Linked DNA regions of Homo sapiens: region 1 is linked to region 2. Evidence: fine-mapped expression QTL. A gene starts in region 2. The other region holds a variant in brackets. All regions are shown on one strand. Distances are between the middles of the regions.

Evidence for each region. PIP is the estimated chance that this variant, and not a neighbour inherited with it, causes the effect.
Region 1: its variant is fine-mapped to the expression of SPX in pancreas (GTEx, PIP above 0.99).

Annotation. Positions count from the first base shown.
Region 1 is chr12:21,558,484-21,563,483 of GRCh38, forward strand. GYS2 (glycogen synthase 2) reads right to left here. Exons shown (of 16, transcript NM_021957.4): 6 at 4,745-4,862; 7 at 4,435-4,555; 8 at 1,903-2,009; 9 at 1,168-1,227; 10 at 608-686. Among named protein-coding and RNA genes, the nearest start is that of SPX, 35 kb to the left of the region's middle. RefSeq lists an enhancer at 1-640. The variant T/A (reference allele first, on the strand shown) is at 1,891.
Region 2 is chr12:21,523,378-21,528,916 of GRCh38, forward strand. SPX (spexin hormone) reads left to right here and starts at 2,919. Exons shown (of 6, transcript NM_030572.4): 1 at 2,919-3,101; 2 at 3,509-3,589; 3 at 3,758-3,815; 4 at 4,350-4,412. The coding sequence starts at 3,096.

The DNA.
Region 1 (5,000 bases), 35 kb after region 2:
GAAGAATCTCCTTTGCATGCTATGAATACATGAAGCTTTTGTTTTCCGCCTGCAGCTACTATATGAGAGACCTGGACTTCTTGATTGCTTCCGGGACTTATTTGGAATATAAAGGTGTCCTGAAGTCTTGACTTAAGATGAACTTTACTGATTTCTTTTAGCAAGGCTGTCCTCCAGTATCTGATTCTTCCCTATTATAACAAGCATTCTGATGCAAGCCTGACACATTTGTTTTATCTCCTTTGTAATAATTCCACTCGACTAAGAAATATTCTTTTCTCTAATGTGACTCAAATTCTATGTTTTGGAAGTATTTAGGACTTTTTTGTAGTTACTAAACTATACATAATTTTTATATTGAATATATTAATTCAAAAATAATTTTGTAAGCAAGTGGAAGGACAAGTTTCATGAGATGTTTTAAAGGAGCTCTTAAAACCACTAATGAAAAAATGTCCAAAGTAATCATTTAAGTGACTATGTAAGAATGTCTTTTCTAGCCTCAGGTCTGAAAATGTTCCAAATTAGCACATTCCAATAAATTAAAATACTGATTAGATAGAATTTAATAACTATGGGACATAGTGGGTGCTTTTTTCCTTATTACCTGAGTTGAAAAGATGGCTCTTTTCATAATTGTTAGATCATCTCGATCTAAAATATCGTTCAGGTCAGGAATTTCTCCTCTGCAGGGAAAAAATGTTAATAACAAAAATAAAAACAGCTGGCACTAATTCAGTGATTCCTAAGCATCAGATTATATATTATATATTTCATGTATTTTAATAAATAATGTTGATTATTCTATTAAGTAAATGTGTTCACATAGACTTAATATTTAAGTACATATTTAATACACATTGTCAATATATATTTTGAATTAAAATCTCATGAAGTCTCTCTCAGCTTCAGACTGACATATCAACCCTTAATGAGTTCATCATTGAATTAGAACTTGCCTGCATATAAATGTATTCTTATTTGTACAGCTATTTACAAGTTTTGTCAAATGAAGGGTAAAATACTGTTCACATGACATAACACATTTTCAAAGGTTATTAATTCCTTGATATTTGGAACAAAATTAATAAGTTATGATGTCTAAATTGTTAAATTTGAATAGTGAAACCTTAAGTGATTGAAGTAGAAAGCATTTCAAGCACCTACCTTAATAATGCATCATAGAGTTTTTTTCCAAACTTTTCCTTCACAGAATGTGCAACATCCCTGTTTGAAACAGAAAGATTTATCATTTAAACAGTATGACAATGTTTAATCTTTATTTGTCACGATAATGCTATTGTTTTGTTGACATTCTTTGAAATTACATTCTTTGAAATTACAGGTATCTTTTTTATAGTCTCTTCTATTATTTTACTACTTGCCAATTCAGCTTAAGTTGACATCTCCAGAGCTGAGGCAACAGAACACCATGGCCAGCACAAAGAGCTTAAAATTTTTTTGCTTCATGATGATTGGAACAGGATAGAGAGCAGAGAGGGGGAGTAGATGAAGGTATAGGTGTAACAAGACGGGAATTCGTTGATCATTGTTGAATCTGAACTATGAGTATACAGGGAGTCATATTACTAAGCTTTTTACTTGACATGTTCTTAGAATTTCACAATAGAAAGTTAAAAAATGTTTGACTCATCTTTAAAGATTTCTACAGGGCCTTGTTCCTTCAATGGTAGCTCATTCCAAAATTTGTATAACACCTATAATGTTATAACCATTACGATAACCTAAAATAGTAGCACGATGAAAAGAGAGTCAAGTATTATTTGTCTGTAATAATCTTAAGGAAAAAACAAAGTTCAAGGCGATACATGAGATGTCATTCACTTAAAAGAAATCTTTTCACATTTATTGCTAGAGAACATTCACAGG[T/A]TGTGAGATTACCACAGCTGTTTTCGCACTGCTTGTCCTTTCAGGGTTTCCACGTTGAAATTATTTGTCTTGGCAGGCATAATGAAAAACACCATCACTGTGATGTCACTTTTATGCATCTGATGAGGAATTAGAAAACACAGAGTCAACTATCAAAGATTTTTAAAAAGTATGATAGATGGAACTTAAACATTGAAAAGTAGAGTTTTAAAATATCAGTAGATAAAAGGTATAGTTATTTATGTTTCACAGAGAGATTATATTCACCTTCCTGAGACTTTTTCAGAAATTTTAATTAAAATCAAAATAAATTTTAAATTTTCAGTCTGTACTTGCCAATAAACAAATTGACTTTCAATCAGTATTTGTCAGTTAACAATTTGAAAATTCAAACAAAATATTTTCGTGCCTTTGACCATCTAGAATAGATAACAATTGCTATTGATGACACTGTGCTTTTCTGTGGTTAAAAAAATAGCATGAATGAGAGCTAATATTACAAGACCAAAATTAGTTCTTTAAAATTTCAGATTGGAAGTTTAATGAAGATTTAAGCTTTGGTAAAAGCTAAAATAATATTTCAATTTTTTTGCTTATTCATGTTGATTGATGACAGATAGATTATTTTTACTTTTCCGCTAAATGTCTTGATTCTCATGATGTTGTATTTTGGTTTTTAGCCCTAAAGCAAAGAAACAAGCACATGACGAGCACTTTTGGGATAGCAGACACTGTGCTGGGTGCTTTAAATATACTACTAATAATCATGTACAATAGGCATTTCTCTCCTCATTTTATTAATGTCAAAAGAAAGGAATGAGAGGTTAAATATTTTCTCTGAGTCCTATAACAGGTTAGTGCCAAAGCTGACATTTAAACTGCTGGCTTAGCATCTCTCAAAAGGAAATGACTTGTTAAGAAGCTGTAAGAATGAAAGCATAAACTCACTTAAAATCATGAACCTCTATGAAGGTTTATGTGTTCTGGAAATGACTGACTAGCTCCAGAGTGTGGGGCACTTTACCGTCTAGTATGCAGCCTCGGCCCTCTAGGGCCTGACATTTTATTAGGGAAAGCTACTGAAGGCATACAATAGGAAACTCACCCTAGGAACAGCCAAGGTGCTATCAAAAAATAAATGTACTATGTGGAAAGAGAATTCCTTCTTTTAACTTCTCCAAGTATTGCAGTTATCTTTTATGTCTAGTATAATAGTAATCAGTCTTTTCTTCATATCTATAAATAAAGTGAATATTTAATAACTATATAAATGCATTTATTAATAATGTCCCTAAAGATTGTATATGTGATATAGTTGTGAGTCCATTATAAAGCTTGTTGAATGAATATATACTAGGAAATATTAAGTAAGGTTATTTAAGAATAATCTTTTTAGTCTTCAGTTCTGTTTTGCATAGTTGGATTTTATTAATAAATCGCTTGTTTATTAACGTGGCTTTAGTAAATTTTTTTAGCATATTTGGCATAATGTCTGCTCTAAAGCAAAAAATTTATGTCCAAGAAATAAAAATTTAACTGGAGGGTAGTACAGAACTCAGGAAAGTTTAGATTTTCTCATTATCTCATTAAGATTGAAATTCTACACTCTTCTCCTGTGAATATTTTCCTATTACTTATTCTACATTTTTATGTGATGGGATTGGAATATAAACCAATAGCTGCCATCAATAGCTATGACATGGTATCTTTTTTTATAGTTGCTTTTATTTATGCATATTGTGTTGCTCGGTTAGTTGAGAACCCACTTTGTATCCCACCTTCCTGAGTAAAAAAAATGATTTCACATGGTTGGGAGTAAGAACCTTCTTTTTCCTCCTTCATGCTTTCATGTGGTGTGACATCCACTAGTTCAAGAGTTTAAAACTCTTAGTCGCAGGGAGGTGGTGTGGCTGGGGAGGTGAGTGAACCGAGTGTGTATGTGTCTGCCCTGTTCTATAGAGAGTTCGTGCTGTCGGGTTTGGCTGCCAGCTATGTGGCACGTGCTACTCTGAAGGCCTGCTTCAGTCGGGAGAGGAGAGTGATGGTCAGAGCTTCCTATGATTAAATGGCTAAGAGTCATAACAAGGTTCAGTATTAGGATGCGTATTGTCATGTGCATAAGCCACATCTTCCATTATAGTCTTCACTGATTTTCTGAAAATTGATATTTTGCTCTGCATTTACTGGATTTCTCTATATTTACTTTTCAATTGATTACAAACTCATGTGAGGGAAAAGGGATGTTATAATGACTTATTAAAACATAGAAGGGGAGAATGGGATAAGCTTAATGAGACATATAATGGGATAAGCTTAAGATTCTCCAAAAAAAAAAAAAAAAAAAAAAAGATGACATTATAGACAAACACACAAGTCAACAGTGTGGTAACTCCAATATGTAAATTGAAAGGCTGAAGCCATTTTTAGAATACGATTATCGTTTATTCTCTTGAAAACTATTTAAGAAGCCAAAAAATTCTTCACTTCCCACAGAAGAAAGTTCTCCCTACAAGAGTGTTATACCATGTCCTAGAGCTTTCTTACCCTCAGCAGGAAATTTAGCCTGGATAAGGATTCTAGGAAGATGTCAGCTCCTTTGTTTGAAAACTCATACCTCCCAGCAATGAAAAGGAACAAAGTCTTTTCAAGATCAAAGTCGAGATGACTAAAACAAAACAAAACCAAACAGTTTCAAATGAAATACAGCAACAGTAACAAAATGTACACATGAATTCTGTTAATGTACAAAGGGGGCTGGGAAAGATAAACATTTATTATTACAATTCTGTTTTCTCTCTACCAAAGATCACTCATATCTGATACTTCTTTTTCTTTTTAATAAAGAAAATCATACCCATAGAAATGACCTCGAACAAAATCTTGGATTCTGGCCTTGTACATGGCATGTAGATTTTGAAACTCATGCACTGCTGAAAATTTCTTAACATTCAAGCCGTTTGGAGTAACTACATCTAGAAAGGCAAAACAAAATTATTATGAAAATTCTCTTTTCAAAGAGGGTACCATTGTAGAAAAAAGTATCTTTAAAACTATAAAGTTAGATGTTTATTGACATTCTACTTTCTGACTACCATAAAATTTAAAATTTA
Region 2 (5,539 bases):
ATTTCCATTGAGTAAGCTACCCAGTTTGTTGTATTTTGCTATAGCAGCTTGAATGGACTAAGAGAGGGACCATCTCTTTCTTTCATGGTAACTTAGTATGTGGTGGATACTCAGGTCCTTGTTCAATATCTGCCTATGTATATAGATCTTTTAACTGAATATTGATATACTTGGAATCCTATCCCTCTTGCCTTCTAAGAATTTCCTTTTGCTGTTATATTCCCTTTCTTCTACATCATGAATTTCTCCTTCCCTACTGATCATCCCCATCAATATACATGTCTTACAAATTGTTTCTTAGTTGTCACATCAACAGAAACCAATAAACATGGCTGATTTGGGCAAAACAAAGATTTTATTAAAAGGACACTGCAGCTGGCATCACCACTGCTACAGCACTGGATGCTGGAACTTGCCACTAGCACCGTAGCTAAGACTACTCCAGAAACTCAATCTTACTACAACCCCTGCTTCACCCGAGCACTTCTTCCATCCTGGCATGAGATTCCCCATCTAAGCATGCTCATCTGATTGGTGAAGCCCGTGTCATATGCCCACATTCTCCCTGATAGGGAGGCTAGAAAACTGACTATCTGGCATTTTCAGTTTGTACAATAGAAGAAACACTCTGCCTCCCAAAAAGATTCATAATTTCATAATTCATAATTCAGGGAATTTTAGGAATTTCCTAGAAATGAAAGGTTTCCCAAAAAGTATAACAAATCTTCTATCTTATCTTTTAAAAAAAAAAAAAAGATTTCACAGGCCAAGCATGCCTATAATCCCAGAGGTTTGGGAGGCTGACATGGGAGGACCAGTTGAGGACAGGAGTTTCAGCCCAGCCTGAACAACATAGTGAGACCCTGTCTTTAAAATAACAATAACAATAATAATAACAGTAAAAAAAATTCTCATTTTTTCCTTTCCCTTCTTTTGTGACATCTGTAAAAGAGATTGTTTATTCTTGGCTTTAATTTATCATATCATATTCACTATTCAACCAACTCCAATCTTGCTTCTATCCTCAAAACCATCATATTCCAAATCCAGTGGATGTTTCTTGGAGCTAATGTTGCTTGACCTCCCAATACTACTGGATCTTCACTTGGCTTCCATGATATCAGGGTCCCCTGGAATTTCTCCTTTCTTTCTGACTCTACCTCAACCTCCTTTTCTGGCTCTTCCTCTGCTCATTCTCTATGCGTTTGTTTTCATAGCTCTGTCCCTGCCACTCTTCTTTAGCCCTATTCACTCCCTAAGTGTTGTGTTTAATCTCATCCCTTTACTGGTTGTAAAATTCTTAGAATTCTTAAAATTCTTAAAGCTAATCATTTCTGCCCCCCACCAAAAAGAAAATCTGTAGGCTGGTGACCTCTTGGCTGACCTCTATCAAGTTTTGCATTTCTAACCTTCTATTTTGTACTTGTACTTGGATATTTTTAATATACATTTTAATTTTAATATGCCTATATGGCAAGTGTTAATTTCCCTCTCATAACTTGCTTCTTAAGAAGTTTCTCTAATTTCAGTAAATTACTTCATAATTTACCCACAGTTTTATCCATAAACCTAAGAATCATCCTTGATTTATTTTTCTCACACTTTCATATCCCTTTTATATACAAGTTCTATATTTTCTACCTCCACAACATGTATTCCAAATTCATTTACAGCTCTTCTTTCCCTGTGTGTACCATCCCAGTGTAAGCCATCATCATCTATTGCTTATAATCGTATTTCCACATCAACTGGCCCATTTCTTCTTCTCCAATCTCATTTCAAAGCACCTCCCCCGTTCACCCACACAACGCTGCCTCCATTGGCCTCTTTCCTAGTCCCCAAGCAAGTCATGCTCTTTGCTGTCCACAGATTTTGCTTTTCTTTCTTCTATTGAGAATGCCTGGAATACTAATTCCTGCCCAGCTTCTCCCATTACTTCACCTTATCCTTCAAGACTACCCTCTGTTTTTAACCTTCCCTAAAGTAGCCCACCACTTATCCTATCACATCACCTTGCTTACTTTTACTTAACAATTTAAAACATTCTGTAGTTACAGTAGTCCCTGCTTATCCACGGTTTCACTTTCCATGGTTTCAGTTACCCATGGTCAACTACAGTCTGAAAATATTAAATGGGAAATTCCAGAATTAATAAGTTTAAATTGTGAGCTTTAAATCTGAGTAGGGTGTTGAAATCTCTCACTGTCCAGCTCCAGCCCACCCAAGACATGAACCATCTTTTTGTCCAGCATGTCCATATGTAAACACCACTCTCCCATTAATCAGTTAGTAACCATCTTGGTGAACAGATAAAAAAAAATAGTATAATAAGGCATATACGTATCAGTGGTTTCAGGCATCCACTGTGGGTCTTGAAACATGCTCCTCCACCCCACACACACCTACGATTAAGGGGTAACTACTGTGTCTTATTTATCTATTCATCAGTTTACTGTGTACCTTAACTAGTAGGTAACTTAGATCAAAGCAGAGACCATGTCTTTTCAGTGCATGGCTGTGTCCCTTGAAATACAAGGATTGTGTGTCTCATAGGCACTCAATAAATATTTGCTAAACAACAGAATGAATTGATAATTAAGTGAATGACTGATGTCAAATTCCATTGAGATTCCCAAACCTTTTCATACATCTTTAGCCATCAGTGATAGACTGATGGCTAGTTACCCAAGAAAAGTTTTCTGATTTATTCTTTTACTTTTGATTCTGCCTTGGACTATTGATTGTTTTCATTAATAATAATAATAACATGTTACTTTGGGCAGCTAGTAGGAAAAGCAAGGCCAATGATGCTGACACATTCTGAAGGCCTCCTGGGTGATGCAATCAGTATTTAAACAAATAATTTCTGCCCATCAATCATTCCTCTACTTCCTGCAATGAAGCTCCCTGGAGGAGTCATCAGATTCTCAATCTTGCTTGAAGACTGACAAGATGTCCCTGTGGACTCCCAAACTCTACTCCAGATGGGGAGGTGCCCTTAACACCAAGATTTTAAAAGCTCCAATTTCAGAGCAAGAGTCGAAAACTCACAGATAAAGTTATAGTTATTTCAGGGTTCTGAAAAGACGCAGAACATGAAGGTAAGTAAAGGCTTTATTAACTTGAGACTTCTTAGCTATTTTTTAAAACGTTTTATAGCATTTTACCTATTTCATGTTTAATAAGGATTTTAGAGTTTAAAGGATATTTGAACGATACGCCTTTAGAATAACAGAATCATTTGATTTTACTAAGAAAAAAATTCACGTATTTACTTATTCTTCATTTGGGTGAAGTAATACAAATAATATGTTTCTAAATACGTTTTTTCAAGTGGACTCTTTGTGAATTAACTAGAAGGTAGAAGGGAAACACCTCCAGAAAACTGAGTATTAAAACAGAATATTGCGAGAAGTAAGGGGGTTTATAATTGTCCAGGCGTCAAGGAAGGAAGCAGAAGATCCTATTGGCACAGAAATGACCCTTTCTGGTTGATCGCTTCATATAGGGACTCAGAAGTCTGGCAGCAACAACCTTGGCTCTTTTCCTGGTGTTTGTTTTCCTGGGAAACTCCAGCTGCGCTCCGCAGGTAATCAAATGCAAAATAAAAAATTTTAAAACAATGCGCACTGTGTGTCCACTCTGCTCTTTCTTTCTTCCTTCTTGTTTTATTCTCTTCTTTTTCCTTTATTTTGCTGTAATAGAGGACTGAGCTGCAATGTTTTATTAACTGCTCTTCCCTTCCCCCGGGCTATAGAGACTGTTGGAGAGAAGGAACTGGACTCCTCAAGCTATGCTCTACCTGAAAGGGGCACGTAAGTTCCAAATATTTCGCTCTTCCTACAATAATGGAAGACCCCTAGGAGTCAGGAACAGATAGATGGAGAGTTATGGAGAGAGAATAATGTCGAGTTTATTCCCTTAAATCATCGAGGCCATCAAAGAGACCGGTAGGTGAGGGAGGGGTGGGAGAGGGGAAGAGTCCCTGATTATTGGAAATCCTCCATCCTTATTAGAAATTCTCCATCCAAAACTGGAGGGTTGCTTCTCTTGGTCCAAATGGGGACTCGGGTTGCCTGGGAAATATCTCAGTAACCCGACCTCCGCTCCAAAGCGCCCTTGCGGCGTCCGGTCAGGCGCGGGGCTTTCCTCCAGAGCTCCAGGGCCCCTGGCTCAGCCCGGGGTTGCGCTGGGAGCGCTGGAAACTCGGCAGCCCCGCGCGACCCTATCCTGGAGCAACCTGCCCCCTCCCCACGCCCGGGGACTGCGCTGTGCCGGGAGGAGCTGAGGTTTAAGCCCGGGTTGTCCCGGGCCAGGCTGTCGCTGAGCCCCAGGTCTCGTTTTTGCAGAGGGTCGCCGCTTCATCTCCGACCAGAGCCGGAGAAAGGACCTCTCCGACCGGCCACTGCCGGGTGAGTGACCAAGGGTGCAAGGGCGCTAGTCCTGCGCTTTTGGAATAGGATGGGGCGGGCAGGGCTTGCTCCGCGCTGGTGCCGAAAGAAAGCGTCTCCTCACCGGAAAGACGCGGCTCTGAGGCGCCCTCAGATACAGTCCGCCCGAGGGCAGCCCGGGTTGGCAGCAGCAGCAGCTGGATGCCGAGCGCCGGAGCTGGGAGCTCGCGCGTCCAGCCCCGCGCCAATGGTGGCAAGGGCGGCCCAGGCTGGCGCTGCGGCTCCCCAAGCCTTATTGGCTTGCGGCTGTTCAGCCAGCCCTCTGGCTGCCAGGGTGTGCAGAGGTCCCCAGGGAGTTAGGACCTGAGGTGCAGCTCAGAGGGGTAAGGCGAGATAGGAAGAACTATGCAAATGCTTCTAGAAATGTATCTGCGCGTTTGTGCAGGAACTTTACTCAGCCTCCTCTTAAACGCTGTTATTATTAAAATAAGAACTTACCTAGGAACTTCAAATGTATGCTTTTGTTTGACTAGAAAGAACTATCAAAGGTTCAAAATCAAAAGAGTAACATGCGGGCAGTTAAGGATGGGACCGGGGACTGTTCTTTTTCATGATAAACCTTTCCATCGTATTGTATTAACAAATAACAATACAATTTGATGAAATTGTAAAGATTGAAATGCTAAAATTAAAAAGTATACTTACTTGGAAAAATACCAAACACTGTTGAACACATAGTAGGTGCTTAAATTTTTGTTTAGGCTCTTCAAACATGCTGTGTAATTGAGCTTATTTATTTTATGAGGTTAAGATTTGTTTCTCAACTTCAGTTGCCCCAAATTAGAAATCATGTTTTGTGCTGAATCAGAACAATTTGTCTTTTTTCAACTTAGATTTGAAATAACTTTGAGTTCTTAGCAGATACTCCTTCAGTCAAATAATTACCTTATATTTGGCCGCAAAGGTTAAATTATTATCTAAAATTCTCTTTGGCATATAGTTTAACATTCTCTTCCATACCCTGTTTGTAAACTTGACATAACCAATTGTAAGTCATTTCCAAGGCAATTGTGACATGTTAAAAAATTAGTCTTCTGTGTAAGTAGTCCTTTGTTGAGGGGTCAAAATCTATTTCATAGAGGTTTTTC